Regions from separate parts of the Homo sapiens genome. Here region 2 is linked to region 1. The links come from fine-mapping of genetic effects on gene expression. A gene starts in region 1. The other region holds a variant in brackets. All regions are shown on one strand. Distances are from middle to middle. Region 1 holds the start of SUCLA2 (succinate-CoA ligase ADP-forming subunit beta). Region 2 has its middle 3.7 kb from the start of LINC00562.

What was found. PIP is the estimated chance that this variant, and not a neighbour inherited with it, causes the effect.
Region 2: its variant is fine-mapped to the expression of SUCLA2 in whole blood (TOPMed, PIP 0.91).

The regions. Positions count from the first base shown.
Region 1 is chr13:47,999,285-48,003,683 of GRCh38, reverse strand. It overlaps SUCLA2 (succinate-CoA ligase ADP-forming subunit beta), which reads left to right and starts at 2,411. Exons shown (of 11, transcript NM_003850.3): 1 at 2,411-2,504. The coding sequence starts at 2,415. SUCLA2-AS1 (SUCLA2 antisense RNA 1) reads right to left here and starts at 2,279. Exons shown (of 2, transcript NR_189308.1): 1 at 1,862-2,279; 2 at 993-1,249. RefSeq lists enhancers at 1-199, 871-2,070, 2,447-2,636, 2,657-2,706, 2,727-2,776 and a silencer at 2,217-2,326.
Region 2 is chr13:47,934,136-47,938,534 of GRCh38, reverse strand. No RefSeq gene overlaps it. Among named protein-coding and RNA genes, the nearest start is that of LINC00562, 3.7 kb to the right of the region's middle. The variant A/G (reference allele first, on the strand shown) is at 2,514.

The DNA.
Region 1 (4,399 bases):
TAGAGACGGGGTTTCTCTGTGTTGGTCAGGCTAGTCTCAAACTTCTGACCTCAGATGATCTGTCTGCCTCGGCCTCGCAAAGTGCTGGGATTACAGGCGTGAGCTACCATGCCTGGCCTGTTTTTTTTTTTTTTTTGTAATGGGGGTCTCATTATGTCACTCAGGCTGGAGTGCAGGGGCACGATCACGGTTCACTGCAGCCTGGACCTCCTGGGCTCAAGTGATTTCCCCCCCATCTCAGTCTCTGGAGTAGCTGGGACCACAGGTGTACACCACCATGACTGGCTAATTTTAAAATTATTTATAGAAATGAAGTCTTGCTATGTGGCCCAACCAGTTTGGTCTCAAACTCCTGGGTTCAAGCAATCCTCCCACCTCGGCCTCCCAAAGTGTTTGGATTACAGGCATGAACCATTGTGCCCAGCTACTTTTTTTGTTTTGATCGAAATTATCATGTGATTTTTCTAACTTAATATAGTGCATTACACATATTTTCAAATATTAAAACAAACTTACATCTCTGGAATATATCCCACTTGGTCATATTGTACAATTCTTTTTATATATTTCTGAATTATATTTGCTAATATTTTGCTATGGATTTTTCCATCAATATTCATGAGAAGTGTTGGTATTTTTTTCTTTTTGTACGGTCTTTTGCTGGCTTTGGTAGTGGGGTGATTCTAACTTCATACAGTACATTGGCAACTGTTCCTTCCTCTTCTATCTTCTGGAAGAGGCTGTATGGAATTGGTGTTAATTCTTGTGTAAACATTTTATAGAATTCATCAGTGAAAGCTTTTGGGCCTGGAGATCTCAGGTTTTTTTTTTTTTTAGTTTAAAAATTACAATTACAATTTTCTCTAGTTAGAGGACTATTTAAATTACCTTTTCATATTAGGTTATTTGTAGTAATTTGTGCCTTCTGAAGAATTCGCTCATCTTGTCAAAGTTGTCAAATTTATGTTATGTGGTGTTATTTATGGCATTCCTTTTTGGTGTCTGAAGGTTCTGTAATTATATTCCCTGGTATGTTCCTCACATTGGTAATTTGTGTCTTCTCTTTTTCTTTTTTCTTTGCAGTCTTGCTGGAGGTTTGTTAAATTTATTTATCTTTTCAAAAACCAGATCCTTGGCTGGGTGTGGTTGCCCACACCTGTCATCCCAGCACTTTGGGAGACTGAGGCAGGAGGATCGCTTGAACCCACGAGTTGGAGACCAGCCTGGGCAACATAGAGAGATTCTGTCCCTAAAAAAATAAAATAAAAAAATCAACCAAGCCTGGTGACACACATCTGTGGTCCCAAACTACTCCAGAGGCTGAGGTGGGAGGATCCCTTGAGCATGGGAGGTTGAGGCTGCAGTGAGCTGTGATCGCGTCACTGCACTCCAGCCTGGGTGACAGACCAAGACCCTGTCAATCAGTCAATCAATCAATCAATAGCTTCCCTGGAGACTCCAGCCTGCCACCAGCTTTGGTAACTAGTGGCCGACTGTCAGGCCTCTGAGCCCAAGCCTGCACGTGTACATCCAGATGGCCTGAAGCAAGTGAAGAATCACAAAAGAAGGGAAATTGGCCGGTTCCTGCCTTAACTGATGACATTCCACCATTGTGATTTGTTCCTGCCCCACCTTAACTGAGTGATTAACCTTGTGAAATTCCTTCTCCTGGCTCAGAACCTCCCCCACTGAGCACCTTGTGACCCCCGCCCCTGCCCGTAAGAGAAAAACCCCCTTTGTAATTTTCCGCTACCCATCCAAATCCTATAAAACAGCCCCACCCCTATCTCCCTTTGCTGACTCTCTTTTCGGACTCAGCCCGCCTGCACCCAGTTAAAATAAACAGCCTTATTGCTCACACCCTGTTTGGCGGTGTCTTCACACGGATGCGCGTGACACCGATCTCTTTGAGCATCAGAAGCGCATGACACCGACCATCTTCTCTTTGAGCATCACAAGCGCGTTACACCGACCATCTTCTCTTTGAGCATCACAAATGGTTTTATTCATTGCTGTAGGCCAAGGGCTCAAGGCTGTTTAGCACGAAGTAGACACTGGGTAATCATTTCTTGAATGAAACACATTTTACAGATGAGGCAACTGAGGCTGAGAGAAGTTAAGATCACCCAAGTGGCGGCGCTGGTCACCTTTACATTGCAATTCACTAGGAAGTGTTCAGGTTGCTCTGACCGCAGGGCAGATATTGGGGCTGCGGTGCCCAGTTCCAAAGGTCAAAGCTTGCTCCGCGCCCGCCAGGGAGCTGGTCTAGCGGCTGCAGTGTTAACCCGAGGCCCCGCCCCCAACGGGTGGCGCGAGGCGGGGCGTAGGTGAGCGCTGCAGAGAGGCTGCGCCTTGGGCCGCCTGTCGCCTGTGCGCCTGCGCGCGGCGCCGAGGGGACGGGGTCCGACTCAGAAATGGCGGCCTCCATGTTCTACGGCAGGCTAGTGGCCGTGGCCACCCTTCGGAACCACCGGCCTCGGACGGCCCAGCGGGCTGCTGCTCAGGTAATGCCTTCCAGTCCGCTGTCGTCTCGAGGGTCGGCAGGAGAAAGGGTGAGGTGTGAGGGGTCCCGTGGCCCGGCTCGGGGTCACTTCGCCGGCAGTGACATTTTCTGGGTGCCCTGCAAGGCCCTCGGGCGACTTGCCTGGGAGTGCTGCTCGCCAGGACTACGAGCGAGCCCATGTTTGCGCGGCTCTGACCCAGCCCTTAGTCCGCGAGGATCCCCGGCGGCCCGGCCGTGGCTGCTCCTGCAGTTTCTAAGAGATGGGCGGGAGCAGGTGGGCTCTGAGTGGAGGTGAGGGGGTCAGGACATTTTCTGCTGCCATTCCGGCGTCTGGCACGGTGGGCTGAGACTTGCGCCGCCCCTTTTTGGGCAGGGGGGAATGCCCTTCAAAAGTACTTTTGTGTTTCTTGGGAGCTGTCATAGGTGGGAATGTCAGAGGACCAGCGGTGCTTACTGACTTGCCTTTTGTGGGGCAAGGTAGGGAAGTTTCCCCTCTCCTCCAAGTAGTTGTATACTGTTCTACTTGTTAATAGCAGTAATAAGATTATGTTTTCTACCTAACCAGTTGGAGAGGTAAGAAAATAATCTTTTGTATAGCCTTATTTCTGGATAGGCTATAGCATAATAGTTACTGGCCTTGTTTTGAATATTTGATGTGTGCCAGGTAATGTGCTAAGCGCTTTACGTGTAGTTTCTCAGGTTTTTCAGCAACTGTGAGGAAGTCATTCAACACCTGCATCATTGTTGAACATATTATGGTTAAGAGAACAAGTAATTTGGACTAGGTCATATAGGAGGTAAGATCAAAGCTGAGATTTAATCCCAGAGGTGTCTGGTTCTAAAGCCGTGTACTTGAGTTGGCTCCACAACTTCGAAAACAAACATCTTCCTTCCAACTTTGACAACAAAAAACTGTGGAAGGGCATTATTGGTGTCCTAAGTCAATTCCAGAGTTTTGGGTTTTTTTCTGAAGTAACTCTTCATACATGTCATAGTATGAATTGATTTAGGGCCCTCCCGCCCCTACCTTTTTTTTTTTTTTTCATTTTTATTGAAGTTGTTCATACTTTCAGCCTAGGGGTAGTGAGTTCTGTGAGTTTGCTTCCCGATAGAAGTGACTTTTTGACCTTGAACTTCCTTCTTATGAATCTTAGAAGAGTGCTATTTAGTTTTTAGAAAATGGGGAATTTAGTGACAAATACGTTTTCATTCTAGTCAAAATCTTTATCTTTTTGGAAGTTCATTTAAAAGCCTTCATTTCTCCTTATGGAAATTTCCAATATTATTTTCTTTATAACAGTTGCTGTCTTCTACCCTGGTATTAAGAAATGCAGCTCTAGAGTTTGGAAGGACCTTAGTCCAACCCTTTGCTTTTGTAGATGAGGACATAGAAGTACGGAGTCTTAAGAAACTCGTTCAAGGTCACACATTTAATTTAGCAATTTGTTTTCCACATTTTTTTTTTTTTTTCCTTGAGACGGAGTCTTGCTCTGTCGCCCAGGCTGGAGTGCAGTGGCGCGATCTTGGCTCACTGCAAGCTCCGCCTCCCGGGTTCATGCCATTCTCCTGCCTCAGCCTCCCTAGTAGCTGGGACTGCAGGCGCCTGCCACCACGTCCGGCTAATTTTTTGTATTTTTAGTAAAGACGGGGTTTCACCGTGTTAGCCAGGACGGTCTCGATCTCCTGACCTCGTGATCCTCCCGCCTCGGCCTCCTAAAGTGCTGGGATTACAAGCTTGAGCCACCGCACCCGGCCTGTTTTAAACATTTGTTTAAGTTCTCTGACCCTCCTCCAATTTCTTGGTATCTTTAGCCTAGTGTACCTTCGTTGAAAATAGATATTTCAGCATATGTCTTTAAGAATAAGGACATTCTTCCAAATAACCGCAGTGATCAT
Region 2 (4,399 bases), 65 kb after region 1:
TAATCACATGAACCCTTAAAAGCAAAGAATAATCCACAGCTGGAGGCAACAATTCAATGCCCTGTTGCTGCTTCTGAGATGTAGGGTTTGTGTGCAAGGACTGGAGAGAGACCTTTAGCTGAGTGTGGCTGTTAGCTGACAGCGAGCAAGGATGTGGGGGTCTCAGTCCTACAAGTGCAAGGAGCTGGCTTTTGCTAGCCATCTGAATGCATTCTGAGGTAGGTTCTTCTCACAGCCTCCTGATGAGAGCACAGCTCACTGACTCCATGATTTTGGTTTTGTGAAATTAAGCAGAGAAACCAGCCAAGCCTATCCAGATGCCTGCCCTACAGAACTGTGAGATAATACGTTTGTGTTGTTTTAGGCTATGAAATTGCTGCTAATTTTTGATGGCAGAGTTAGGAAATTTAATACACTACCATATTTATGCTTCTGTGCATAAGTTATAATAAGCCAGCTCTTAAACTGAGAGGAAAGATGAGTTTTTAAAAATAAGGGCCATTTTTTTTAAATTGGAAATTAAAATTCTATAATGGACTGATTCTTTTATAAAAAACAATTACTAGAAAAGTGAAATTTTCAAAAAGCACAGAAAAGCCTCAATTCTTTTATTCATTTATTTTTGATTCTACAGGATAAAATTGCTCTTTCAAACTGCTGTAGAAGTTTCTAAATATTTTAAAATATCTGTTTATCACTTGCAGATTTGTGATCTGTTTGTGGACTGGCATCAGTCCACAGATAACATTTTGAGCAGGACTGAAAAAAGCACCATCACATCCAATTTGTGAAGATATAAACACAAATTGGAAGTAAGCTATAAACAAATGTCTAGGGATAAGAGACTCAGCATTGAGTAGTTGTGATTAACATTATGGTACTCATAGCTATGTAAATCTGCGAAACAATTGCCATTAACTAAAGAAGTCATGACTGTTGGGTGCCCTAGAGTCTAGTCAGCACTAATACAGTAACACAGAAATCACTAAGTTTAGCAAGTTGGGAGAAGTATTGAAAGGGCCAGGAGTGGCCTAAGCTTCCTGGTTCATTTGTTGCCAATTATATTAGTCCATTTTCACACTGCTAATAAAGACATACCTGAGACTGGGTAATTTATAGAGGAAAGAGTTTTAATGGACTCACAGTTCCACATGGCTGGGGAGACCTCAATCATGGTGGAAGGCAAGAAGGAGCAAGTCATGTCTTACATGGATGGCAGCAAGCAAAGCGAGAGCTTGTGCAGGGAAACTCCCCCTTATAAAACCAGTGGCTCACGAGCTGTAATCCTAGCACTTTGGGAGGCCAATGCAGGCAGATCACCTGATTGTCAGGAGCTCAAGACCAGCCTGGCCAACATGGTGAAACCCTGTCTCTACTGAAAAAAAAATACAAAAATTAGCCAGGCATGGTGGTGTGTGCCTGTAATCCCAGCTACTCCAGAGGCTGAGGTAGGAGAATTGCTTGAACCCGGGAGGTGGAAGTTGCACTGAACCGAGATTGTGCCATTGCACTCCATCCTGGTGACAGAGCGAGACTGCATCTCAAAAAAAAAAAAAAAAAAAAGAAACCCAAAAAGCAAAAACCAAAAAACCATCAGCTCCCACAAGACTTATTCACTGTCACGAGAACAGCACAGGAAAGACCCACCTCCGTGATTCAATTACCTCCCACCAGGTTCCTCCCACAACACATGAGAATTGTGGGAACACAGTCAAACCATATCACCAACTAAACACTAACATCTATTAATGTCTTCAATAGGAGTTGATTGACCACCAGTTGAGAGCCTGCAGTTCATCAGTTGAGAGTGACAATTCCAGAGTGACCAGCTGAGCATGTAATATGAAGGAAACTGGAGAAAAGCCTCAACTACTTTATGATTATTCCTATGATTTGTTCTTAAAGCAGAGAAGCATCTTTTTATTTGTTTTTGATATCCTTGTTTGATGAAACCAGCATCGTTTTAGAAAAAATATCTTTGTTTTAGTAAAAATGACACATACTCATTGAAAAAATAAACCCCTTCAAAACTGGAATGATACAAGAAAGTGCAGACAAGTAAAGATCACCTGCAGTGCCAGAACCCAGAAATAACTAATGTTAACAGTTTTGTAAACAATCTTCTGGTCGTCTCTAAATATGAGCATATGTGGATAGATATGAATACACTTTTATATAAATAGGATCATAAACATAATGTTCTATAATCTGCATTTCTTCAAATAAGGATCTTTCCATGGCATCAAATATAGGACTACATAATTTTTAATAGCTGCACATACAAGAGAATGTGTATATCATGGTTTATTTAACCTAGCCTTGCAATTATTGACATTTGGTTTATATGTCTTTAACATTATAAATAATAGGTGAACACTCTGGTGCATATGTCTTTCAGCACATGGGTAATTTCTCCTTAGGGTAAAAACCTGTAAGTGGAATAGCTGTGTAAAAGCATGAACCGCTTTCCAGAAAGTCTCTTTTGGTTACTCTTCCATTCATAATGCACAATA[A/G]TATTTCCATACTTGATAACATTGTATTGCTAATTCCAATGGGCAAAAACCATGTCCTGTTTAATGTTGATTGAGCTTTCATCTGTTGACTGGGCATTTGTGGAAGTGTATGTGTGTGTGTGTTTGTGTGTGTCAGCGTGTGACTTCCTTTTCATGTTCTTTTTTTTTTTTTTTTTTTTTTTGCGACGGAGTCTCGCTCTGTCGCCCAGGCTGGAGTGCAGTGGTGCGATCTCGGCTCACTGCAAGCTCCGCCTCCTGGGTTCACGCCATTCTCCTGCCTCAGCCTCCTGAGTAGCTGGGACTACAGGCACCCGCCCCGCTAATTTTTTGTATTTTTAGTAGAGACAGGGTTTCACCGTGTTAGCCAGGATGGTCTCGATCACCTGACCTCGTGATCCGCCTGCCTCAGCCTCCCAAAGTGCTGGGATTACAGGCGTGAGCCACCGCGCCCAGCCCTTTTCATGTTCTTTGACTGTTTTTCTATTGACTGTTCATTCTTCCTAGTATTAATAACTTTTTGTATATTTGAGATTAACCATTTTTGCCTATTATGTATTTTATATATATGTCATATGTCATTTTAAATATAATGAAATGTATTAGTCTTTGTGGTTTCTAGTTTTCATGATATGTTTTGAAAGGCTTAATTGTTTTGTTACAAAGTCTGAACTTGAGTTATGAATGCAAATTTCCCCTCTCAAATGCCTAATCTGTTTCCCAAACACCATTTACTTATCCCTTAAGGGATTTACTTTTCCCTATTTGATCTATTTCCCACCAATTTTAAAATGTCATCTTTATCATATACTAACTTCCTGTATGTTCTTGCGTGTATATGAAACTGGCACATACAGGGAGACTCTTTATTTAACTTTTACTTAAAGTAGGAGGTAGGAAAGAGATCTGTTGAAACCATGACAGAGAGTGTTGCAGCGCCTGTCAAAGTTATCCTTGCTTATTTGTAGAAAAATTGAACTTTCCATTTTCCTAACTTTCAACTTGCAATTGAATGACACTGATTCTACTAGGAAAAAAGTAAAAGCTATACTATTTGATGCCAGATGTATGACTGTGGGCTGATGAGGAAGAACTGGAAACAAATGACAGGTGATTCACTGCTTTGTGTCTGGTGTGCCATGACTCTCTTGAAGGGGGGCAGTGTTGATCTGAATCTTTTTGTCTAATGCTTTTTCTTCCTCTGGGAGGGATGCTGAAGAGGGGCAGCTGAAGGAGCAGTCTTAAGCAAATTGGTCATGGCTTTCTTAAATATTGTGATTCGATTGATATGGAACATTTTTTCAGTCTGTGAGAGACTTTTCATTATGGACTAGCTCATAAAAAACCGTAGATTTAATTTGCCCAGGCTGTTGGTTCTCTTGTGTTTGTTATCATACGTCAGCATGAAACCTTTGGCCTTTGTGGAAGCCTTGTGGAGACCACTGAACAGACTTGGAGCCATATCTGACTCGCCTGCCAGCATTCCTGATGTTCAGTGCCTGTTATTGCCCCTCTCCATGGCATTCTCCTCTGTGGTTATGTGAAAGGAAAATAAATCACTAAGCCAAGGGAAAAATCAAACTGGGAGCTATGTCAGGCAAACCTGCCTCCCATTTTATTCCTAAATAACATAGCTACATACCTCCCTCGCAATTTGCCACAGATCCTCGTCCACAAGGAAATTCACTGTGGACAAAGGACAGACAGAACTCAAAGTCATCCCTCTGAGACTCACCTGAGACAAATGCATATCTGATTGCTTCCTTTGCCCTATTGTTTATGTAAAAATGCAGATTCACTGAGTCAGACTAAGTTGTGTATTGAGTGGAAGGCTCATCAGGACTCAAAAGAATGCACCCTAATGTCTTTTATCTACTTCTAACCTGGAA